Regions from separate parts of the Homo sapiens genome. Here region 1 is linked to region 2. Evidence: fine-mapped expression QTL. A gene starts in region 2. The other region holds a variant in brackets. All regions are shown on one strand. Distances are from middle to middle. Region 1 overlaps ARHGEF6 (Rac/Cdc42 guanine nucleotide exchange factor 6). Region 2 holds the start of LINC00892 (long intergenic non-protein coding RNA 892).

What was found.
Region 1: its variant is fine-mapped to the expression of LINC00892 in whole blood (TOPMed, PIP 0.98).

What each region holds. Positions count from the first base shown.
Region 1 is chrX:136,700,902-136,706,287 of GRCh38, forward strand. All of the region lies in intron 9 of ARHGEF6 (Rac/Cdc42 guanine nucleotide exchange factor 6), which reads right to left. Among named protein-coding and RNA genes, the nearest start is that of CD40LG, 55 kb to the left of the region's middle. The variant C/T (reference allele first, on the strand shown) is at 2,391.
Region 2 is chrX:136,636,548-136,641,933 of GRCh38, forward strand. LINC00892 (long intergenic non-protein coding RNA 892) reads left to right here and starts at 2,996. Exons shown (of 3, transcript NR_038462.1): 1 at 2,996-3,257; 2 at 4,227-4,293.

The sequences.
Region 1 (5,386 bases), 64 kb after region 2:
ATGGGTAATGTAAGCAGAGTGATAGAAACACTAAGAAATGATCAAAAGAAAATGCCTGAAATAAAAAACACTGTGACAGAAATGAAGAATGCCTTTGATAGTCTAACAAATAGGCTAAACATAGCTGAGGAAACAGTGAGCTTCAAGATATGTCAATAGAAATTTCCTAAACTTAAATGTAAAGAAAAAAATTTTAAATGGAAGAGAATACACAAAAACTGTGGAACAAGTACAAAAGGTGTAACATGCATAATGGGAATATAGACAGAAAAGAAAGAGAAAAGAGAAGAAATATTTAAAATGTTGACCCTATTAGGCCAAGAATTTTGCAAAATTATTGACAGACCCCAAACTGCTGATCCAGGTATCTCAGAGAACACCAAGCAGGATATATAGCAAAACATATCTACACCTAGCCATTTCATATTCAAGCTGCAGAAAGGCAAAAGCAACGAGAAAATCTTGAAAGAAGCCAGACAGGGAAAAACACCTTACCTGTAGAGGAACAAGGATAAGAATTGTATCAGACTTCTCATTATAAACCATGCAAACAACAGAATGGAATGAAATATTTAAAGTGTTGAAGGAAAAAAATGACAACCTAGAATTCTGAATACTTTCTCAAACAAACAAAAAATGTGGGAAATTGTGGCCAGATGACTTGCCTTGCAAAAATGTTAAAAGAAGTTCTTCAGAGAGAAGGAAAGTGATATAGATTTAAAAACAACAAACAAAACTTGGATACATGGAAAAAAGTATCAAAAATAATAAATCCAGGTAAAACAAAATATTTCATTTTTCTTTTTTTTTTTTTTTTTTTTTTTGAGATGGAGTCTCGCTCTGTCACCCAGGCTGGAGTGCAGTGGCGCCATCTTGGCTCACTGCAAGCTCCGCCTCCCGGGTTCACGCCATTCTCCTGCCTCAGCCTCCCTAGTAGCTGGGACTACAGGCGCCCACCACCACGCCCGGCTAATTTTTTGTATTTTTAGTAGAGACAGGGTTTCGCTGTGTTAGCCAGGATGGTCTCGATCTCCTGACCTCGTGATCCGCCCACCTCGGCCTCCCAAAGTGCTGGGATTACAGGCGCGAGCCACCGCACCCGGCCTCATTTTTCTTATTCTTAATTGATTTAATAGATAACTGTTCAAAGTAATAATAGCAACAGTGTATTGGGTGATTTTACTTTATAGAAAAGTGAAATGAATTACAATAATATTATAAGGGATAAGAGGGAGGAATTGAGAATATTCTGTTATAAGTTACCTATGAAATTGTGTAGTGTTATGTGAAAGTGTTGTTAGATTTAGCTGTAAATACATAACATAAACTCTAGGGATACTGGTAAAATTTTTTAAAGGGAGTATTATATGCTAAGAGAAAAGTGAAAATAAAATGTTTACTAAAAACAGAAAAGGCGGAAAAATAGAGGTAAAAAAGAAACAAAGAACAATTGCAATGAATAGAAAACATGGCAGATACTAATCCAAATATATAAATAATCACTTAACATGTGAATTTTCTAAATACGCCAATTAAAAGAATGAGACTGTCAGAGTGGATTAAGAAACAAGACTCAAATATATTTTGTCTACAACATATATTTTAATCTATGACAATTAAAAGTAAAGAGATGAAGAAGGATATATCCTATTAACAATAATTGAAAGAAAGCTGGACTAGCTGTATTAATTTCAGACAAAGCAGACTTCCGATCAGGGAAAATTATCAGAGATAAAGAGGAAAAATATACAATGATAAAAGGGCAAATTCTCCCACAAAACATAATAATCCTTAATGTGAATGCACCTAACAACAGAGTATCAAAATACATGAAACAAAAATTGATAGAACTGAAAAGAGAGATAAATCTATTGTGGTTAGAATTTAACATCTCTCTATCAGGAACTGACAGATCCAGCAGCAGAAAATTAGTAAGCAGGCAGTTGAACTGAATAGAACCATCAGTCAAGTGGTTCTAATTAACATTTGTAGAATATTTCATTCAACAACAGTCACACTTTCTTCTCACACTCACATGGAGCATTCACCAAGATAGACCACGTTATGGGCCATAAAACACAACTTCAATTTATAAGAATAGAAATCAACAAATGGTGCTGGGACAACTAGATATCCACATGCAAAAGAATAAAATGGAACCATATGCACAAATTAACTCAAAATTAATTAAAGACCTAAATATAAAAGCTAAGATTATAAAACTCTAAGAAAATAAATAGGCATGAATCTACATGACCTGGATTAGGCAATAATTTCTTAGATACAACACCAAAAGTGCAAGCAACAACAACAAAACAACATATTGGACATCATCAAAATTAAAATGTAAAATCAAAATTTTTGTGCTTCAGAGAACACCATCAAGAAAC[C/T]GAAAACACAACCCAAAAAATGAAAGCATATTTTTTCAAATCATATATAGGCACACCTCATTTTATTGCAGTGTACTTTATTGAACTTCACAGATAATTGCATTTTTTACAAATTGAAGTTTTGTGGCAACCGTGTGTTGAGCAAGTCTATCGGTGCCATTTTTCCAAAAGTGCGTACTCACTTTGTGTCTATGTGTCATATTTTGGTAATTCTTACAATACTCCAAACTTTTTTTATTTTTTTTCCTGAGACGGAGTTTCACTCTTGTTGCCCAGGCAGGAGTGCAATGGCGCAATCTCGGCTCACGGCAACCTCCGCCTCCCAGGTTCAAGTGATTCTCCTACTTCAGCCTCCCAAGTAGCTGGGATTACAGCCATGTGCAAGCATGCCCAGCTAATTTTGTATTTTTAGTAGAGATGGGGTTTCTCCATGTTGGTCAGGCTGGTCTCAAACTCCTGACCTCAGGTGATCCGCCCGCCTTGGCCTCCCAAAGTGCTGGGATTACAGGCATGAGCCACCACGCCCAGCCAATAAAGTATTCTTTAATTAAGGAATGTACCTTGCTTTTTTAGACATGATGCTATTGCACACTTAATAGACTATACAGTAGAGTGTAAATATAACTTTTGTATTCATTTGGAAACCAAAAAGTTCATGTGACTCACTTCATTGCAATATTCACTTCACTGTAGTGGTTTGGATCCACAGTATCTCCAAGGTAGACATGTATCTGGTAAGAATCTAATATCCAGAATATATAAAGAACTGTTGCAACTCAACAATGAAAAGATAGCTAACTGAATTTTTTAAATGAGCAAAAGATTTAAATAGACATATTCCCAAAGAAGACATTAAAATAGCCAATAAGCAAGATGAAAAGATGCGCAACATCACTAGCCATTAATAATGAGTGACTGTTACTGGGGACAGGTTTTTAGAGGGGAGTAATAAAAATGTTCTGGAGCTAGACAGTGGTGATGGCTACACAACCTTGTGAATATATTAAAAACCACTGAATTGCGTAGTTTAACATCGTGAATTTTATGTTATATAAATTATATCTCAATAAAAATACACATAACCCAATTTAAAAACAGGCTAAGGATCTGAATAGACATTTCTTTGAATGAAGGTATACGAACTTCCAGTAGGTACATGAAAGATGCTGTATTAGTCCGTTTTCACACTGCTATAAAGATACTATCTGAGACTGGGTAATTTATAAACAAAGGAGGTTTAATTGACTCACCATTCCACATGGCTGGGGAGGCCTCAGGAAACTTACAATCATGGTGGAAGGAGAAGGAAAGGCAAGTACTTCCTTCACAAGGTGGCAGGAAAGAGAGCAAGAGCGACGGGGGAAGAGCCCCTTATAAAACCTTCAGATCTCGTGAGAACTCACTATCATAAGAACAGCTTGGGGAAAACCACCCCCATGATCCAGTCACCTCCCACCTGGTCCCTCCCTCGACATGTAGGGTTGACAATTCAAGATGAGATTTGGGTGGGGACATAGAACCAAACCATATCAGATGCTCAATATCATTATTCCTGAGGAAAATGCATATCAATCTCACCATGAGAAACCACTTCATATCCACTAATATGTCTATAATCAAAAAGACTGACAATAACAAATGTTTGGTGAGGGTGTGGAGAAAATGAAACCCTCATACACAGATAGTGAGAAAATAAATTGGTGCAGTGACTTTGTTTTGTTGTTGTTGCTGTTGTTGTTTTGTTTTTGTTTTGTTTTTTGTCTGAGGCAGAGTCTTGCTCCGTCAAGTGAAGCCAAGGTGGGCGGATCATTTGAGGTCAGGAGTTCGAGATCAGCCTGGCCAACATGGTGAAACCCCATCTCTACAAAAATTAGCTGGTCGTGGTGGTGCGTGCCTGTAATCCCAGGTACTCTGGAGGCTGAGGCAGGAGAATCGCTTGAATCTGGGAGGCAGAGGTTGCAGTTGTGCTCCAGCCTCGGTGACAGAGCAAGACTCTGTCAAAAAAAAAAGGAAGGGAAGAGGAGGGGAGGGGAGGGAGAAAAGAAAAGGGTAACTTTCTATTGCTTAAGCCAGGTGGTAGATACACAGGTGCTCATTTTATTGTGATCCTTTAAATTTGCATTTACATTATTCTTTCTGTGGATAAAATATATGTCTTAATAAAAATATTTTTTAGAAGTCTGACAGACCTGGATTCTGGCTCAACCACTTAAGATCTATGAGTTCTTGGGCACATTACTTAACCTAAGCCTTCCAATGTCTTATCTGTAAAGCAGAGATGGTAATAATAATAACTCCCTCATAGGCTTTTACATCATGTGCCTGGCACATCGTCAGTGCTATTACTAGCTAATGTTAGCTATAAGCAGTTGAGCCACTTGCCTAAAAATGCCAGGTTCATGACCTCTCTTTCTTTAAACTCCAATTTCCATATTTGCTATTCCATAAGAGTTCAAAATTTATCAGAGGAATAAAATTGACCTTCAAGCAGGACTTACTGCGTTCAACCTTTAAAATGTCCTTACATAACATCTTTGTAAAGCCAATAAATATTGCACCTTAATAAACCAGGACAAGAACCAAAATTTCTGTCATTTCTGGAGGCTCGTGTCAACTAATGTTCTAGCCTAGCTCTGGGAGCTCAAATCTAGGTCAGATTAAGAGAATATTATTTTCAGTCTTGAACAGCTTCCAGAATCCATGTCCATTCTGCATCTTAGTCTCCAAGTTAAGTCAAGAGTCTCTATATGTTGGACTTGCTTTTGTCCCACCTGGATTTCCAGCATATGACTTCAAAGGTAAAATTCTGTCACTAAGCCTGTCCTACAGTTTTCTGGCCCAGATGAATGTGTCAGTGAATGTGTCAGGGGTGGGTAGTCAGAAGCTAAGGATGGCAGGAGAGGTGTAACACTTATCTAGGTCCCTTGCAAGGACTCGTATTCTTAAAGGAGACACTATTCTATTGTTCATCATGAATCGGAAGCAACTTATATTCA
Region 2 (5,386 bases):
AGAGTGTGTGAACCAGGGTTGGTCTGGGGCGGGGCAGCGGTTGGGTGGGGAGGACAAGACTTTTCTGCCTGCACTACCCCCACCTTCCTTTTTCCCATTTGTTTCACCAAGATTTTCCTTCCTGACTTGTTTTTGGACACTTTCTGCACCCCTCTTGTTCTGTTCCTAAACTGTCCCATGCACCTTTCCACTACCTTCTCCCTGAATATTTTTTGCTGTGTCCTGTTCCTTGTCCTGGTCCCAAATCACTTGGCCTGCCCTTCCCTTGTCCCTGGATCTTTTTGCTGAGTGGCACTATTTTTGGACAAAGAGCCTTTTCCAGTCCTGCCTTGAACCACACTACATAGAAGCCTCCGTGTAGATGATGTGAGAGTCAAAGCTCTAGGAATTAGCTAACTCTTACCTGGGGCTGGGGGCCAGGCTGTGGAAGGACAGAGACTGGAAAGAGAGCAGGACCCCTTCAGCAGCCCTGCTTACCTTCTGCAGAGCACAACAGCCTGGCCTAAACAAAAATGTTCCTAGTGGCAGAAGATACTTCTCCAGAAGGGCTTGCTTTCATCACACTGTAATTATATATACATTCATTCAGTGAAAATTTACTGATCACCTACTATATGCCAGGCACCATTCTAAGTGCTGGAGATACACCAGTGAATAAAAAAGACAAAAAGGCCCTGCCCTTATGGATGGATCTTACATTCTAGAAACCAGTGCTGGACCAGGCATCAAGACCCTAAGTTATTAGCTATGAGACCTTGGAGGAGCTGCTTAACAACTTCCTGAGCCTGGGGTCAGAACTGAAGAGGGCAGCGTGGAAGATAACAGTTAGAATTTGGAGCCTCAGATTTCTCATCTATCAGAGGGGTATCAGGCTGAATGGGTCGACAGATACAGAGGTGTGCTCTTTGAAGAGTATCCAATACCATATAAACATATGGTTTTATTATCGTCTACCCTCATCCTTGCCACCACTTTTAGGGAGTAGTTCCTAGCTTTGGGCCTACAAGAAATGAAGGTACCCTGGGTCTATTTCATTTGGAAGGATTCTGCAAGTGCATGAGAATAGAGAATACAAGTATTAGGTTGGTGCAAAAGTAATTGTGGTTTTACCATTACTTTCAATGGCAAAAATCTGATGATTAAAGATAGATAGATAAATAGATGATGGGTAGATATAGCTATAGATACATGTTTTTTACACAAGTAGCACATATTCATTGTGGGAAACTTCAAAAATATAGACAAGTTAAAGCAAAAAGATAAAGATACCCCAGAACCTATCACCCAGACACAAGTCTTGTGGTACCTTGCAGACTTGTTTCTGTGTGCACATGTAGAGGAGTGTAGAGCATAATCAAAGAGCCATGCGGTTCCTCCGCTTGACTGTGTGTCCTCTGCTGATGAACATCTTTCTGCTCAGGTCATGATTGGAGCAGCATTTCAAAAGATGGAGCCACTTTCTTCTACAGAAGTGTTGTATTAGTTTCCAAGGGCTGCCATAACAAATTACCACAAACTGGGGAGCTTAAAATGATAGAAATGTATTCTTTCACAGTCCTGGAGGCCAGAAGTCTGAACTTGAAGGTGTTGGTAGGGCCATGCTCTCTCTAAAGGATCTAGGGGAGGGTCTTTCCTTGTTTCTTCCTAGCTTTTAATGGTTGCCAGCAATCCTTGATGTTCTGCGGCTTGTAGACACATCTCTCCAATCCCTGCCTCTGTTTTTGCATGGCTGTTTTCCCTCTGTGTTTGTCTGTGTTCAAATTTCCCTCTTCTTATAAGATCACTAGTCATTGAATTAGGGCCCACCTTAATTCAGTTTGACCTTATATTAATTTCACTAATTACATTTACAAAGTATTTCCCCCCCAAAAAAGTCACATTCACAGGTGCCACATGGGCATGAATTTGGGGAGGGGAACACTGTTCAACCCAGAACAGATATCAACCCTACTGCTTATTTGAAACTGCTTCAGATGTGGTTGGTTCCCCGATGTCAGGGGAGAGAGAGGGCTCCAGGCATCAGCCACCCTGTGACAAGGAGTACCAGGACATCCTTCTCCTCAAAGTCAGAAAACATCCTGATGTCAAAGATACGGGCTATTGAGTTATATGTGGAAGTGCTCTAGTGGAAACTGTCCCAGGTCCACGCTTACCAAGATGGCGCAGTTCACCATGGGGCACTGTGATGAAGAAAGATTCCCAACTCCACTTATTCACAGGGGAACACCCGTGCCACAATAGCTATCAAAGGTTGTGGTAATTGTTTTCCAATTATCTACCTGTGGGCAAAAATTAACATGGGTGCAGAGCATGGAGGGGAACTTTTAGCTACTACTCATAAGCACTTTAGGGACACTCTCAACTTATTTTTACAAAACTGGAACTGGGCCGGTTGCAGTGGCTCACACCTGTAATCCCAGCACTTTGGGAGACCGAGGCAGGCGGATCGCCTGAGGTTAGGAGTTCAAGACCAACCTGGCCAACATGGCAAAACCCCGTCTCTACTAAAAGTACAAAAATTAGCTGGGCGTGGTGGCAGGTGCCTGTAATCCCAGCTACTCAGGAGGCTGAGGCCGGAGAATCGCTTGAACCTAGGAGGCAGAGGTTGCAGTGAGCCGAGATCATGCCACTGCACTCCAGCCTGGGCAACAAGAGTGGAACTCTGTCAAAAAAAAAAAAAAAAAAAAAAAACTGGGGACATCCTATTTCTGCCATGATATTTGCACTATCAGTGTATCACAGGGGTCCTTCTAAGCCAGTAATATACTTCTGTACCAAAATGTATTTAACTAGTAATCCTAAATCTTTTGATAAAGCCCTTCCATTTCTCTTCCACCCCTGTGGTCCCTGTGGTACATCTTGTGCTGAAAGATTACCTTCTACTCAAATCTTAACTATTTTACTGAATCTCTCCACCTCCTTTTGCACCCCTTGACTCAGCCAGGAAAAAAATATATATATATATATATTTCCTGCCCCTGGCGTTTCCTTAATCAGATGCAGACATGGCTGGATGTTCTTTGCTGGGCTGCTGAGTCAGAAGCCTGGACGGGCCAGCTTCAGTTTTAATGAAGTGGCTCAGGAAGGAAGTGCTAACAGAGATGGGTGCACAGTGCAGTCAGTGGGTGGGAGCTGATGCTGGCTAGAAGACCTGAGTCTTCCGAGAGGCAGCTTGATTCCTGGAAAAGACTACTGGGCTGGAAGTCAGGAGGCCTGGGGTACTCTCAGCTCTGCCGCTAACATGCTGCATGACCATGGTAAGTCATTGCCTTTCTCCGAGCCTCAGTGAGAAACAGCGGGCCTGGCCCCAGAAGACACTGTGGGAGAACTAGAGGTCTTCTGCGTCAGGCCCCCACTAAGAAGGCAGTCTCCTGTGAGGATACCTAAGAGATGAGTTAGAAGCAGAGGGCACATTTCACAAACAGCCCCCAAGGGGTTGTCAGGAACAGACCACAGGAAGAATCAGAGAGACAGAAATTGCCCAAGCCTGTGGTCTGAACTGAAGAGGGCAGCCTGGAGGACACCAGTTAGAAGTTGGAAAGAGAGAGAGAGAGCCCTGAATGAGTTAAGTCAAGAAGAAGGATCATGGTAGAGGTAAATTGCAGGGTAGGCGGGGAAAGGCTGTGGAGAGGGGTTTCTGGGCAGTGGAGCCAGGAGCTAGCCTACTAAAGTCCTGGAGCTCTAGGGGAGATGCAGAAAGCAGGCTGAGGCCAGGCATGGTGGCTCACGCCTGTAATCCCAACAGTTTGGGAGACCAAGGTGGGCAGATCACTTGAGGCCAGAAGTTCCAGACCAGCCTGGCCAGCGTGGTGAAACCCTGTCTCTACTAAAAATACAAAAATGAGCCAGGCGTGGTGTGCATACCTGTAATCCCAGCTACTCAGGAGGCTGAGACATGAGAATCACTTGAACCTGGGAGATGGAGATTGCAGTGAGCAGAGATCGCGCCATTGCACTCTAGCCTGGCGACGCAGCAAGACTCTGTCTCAAAAAAAAAAAAAAAAAAAAAAGGCAGGCTGAGACTAGAGCAAGGGAGGTTTAAAAAAATGGACTAGAACCACACAGACAAGTCTTAAATGTTCAATCATGTCAGGCTGATATTTGAAGGAAAACAGGTGCCAACTATGTGCCCACCTGCAGAGCATGCCATCCCTGAGACCCTTCACCGTGGAAGAAAGGGAACTTTTTGTTCTATAAACACCTGATATTTCATGTTCCACATTAAGGGCTGACTGGAGAACCTGAGGTGCTGTGCAGAGACCAGAGGAAGGCTTTGATCCCAAGCCTGCAGCCGTAAGAGAAGAACGAGCCCATGAGTTCCAGCCTGTGGGTCCTTCCACATGCTAGTTCCTGTACCTGGAATGTATTCTTTCCTGACCCAGAAAATTCCTTCAGGGCTTCCTCTTCCAGGAAGTCTTCCCTGAGTCTGTCACCTCTTCACCCTCACTCCTTCTGCATGCTCCCAAAATCCCCTGCACTTCTCTACTGTGGATGCTTACCCAGTGCACTGTGGTCCACTCTGGCTTTTGTATCTCCTTAACTAGCAGCTCTGTCTTTTTCATTTTGGATTCCCAGACCTATCAGAGAGCCTAGTGCTTGCCAAATGCTGGGAAAATACTTATTGAAAGGATATTGACTACTCGGTGTTAGCCACAAGGCCCCTCGGACAGTCTTGCCATAGGAAACATCAATGGGAGAACCTTTTGGAATATATAGAGAGATGCTGTGGGGAACTTATGGGTTTGTTTTTTTTGTTGTTGTTTGTTTGTTTGGCTAAACTCACAGCAATAGGTGTTAGAGTCATACAAGGGTTACAATAGCACCCAAGAGCCCACTTATGACTAGAAATTTCTTCCAGAATTCCCTTCAAAGCATGACTCTCCTGCTGTGTTTGGGGTGGGGAGTGTGTGGCAGTGGCGAGGGGACACAATCCTGCCTCTAGGATACAACTCTGGAGTGGATATGTGCCAAGAAAGCTCACCTTGGGGACCTGGGATGGAGGTAGGCATCTGGTAGAAAGGGAGAGTGAGGATTCTGGGCACACTATGAAAACTAATACCAGAAACCAGATCAAGACACCCAACATCCCCATTCCCAACCACACTCATCTATGCTGGAGGTGATTATCCCCACGCCCCTCCTATGTTACTCTTCCTGAGCCATTGGAGTGCCAGAATAAACATAACCAACTAGAAGACTTCTGCAGAATGGAAAAGGATGGAAGATTCCAGACTAGAAAGGCCAAGGACAGCAGATGGACACTGAATGTTGAGATTTGTCAGTGGAGTGCTGCAAGACAGGATGCAAAGTTATGACAGGTGTCTTTGCTTCTAGAGAGGCTTCGCAGACATGCATTCTATCCCACCCCACCCCGCCCCACCCCCTG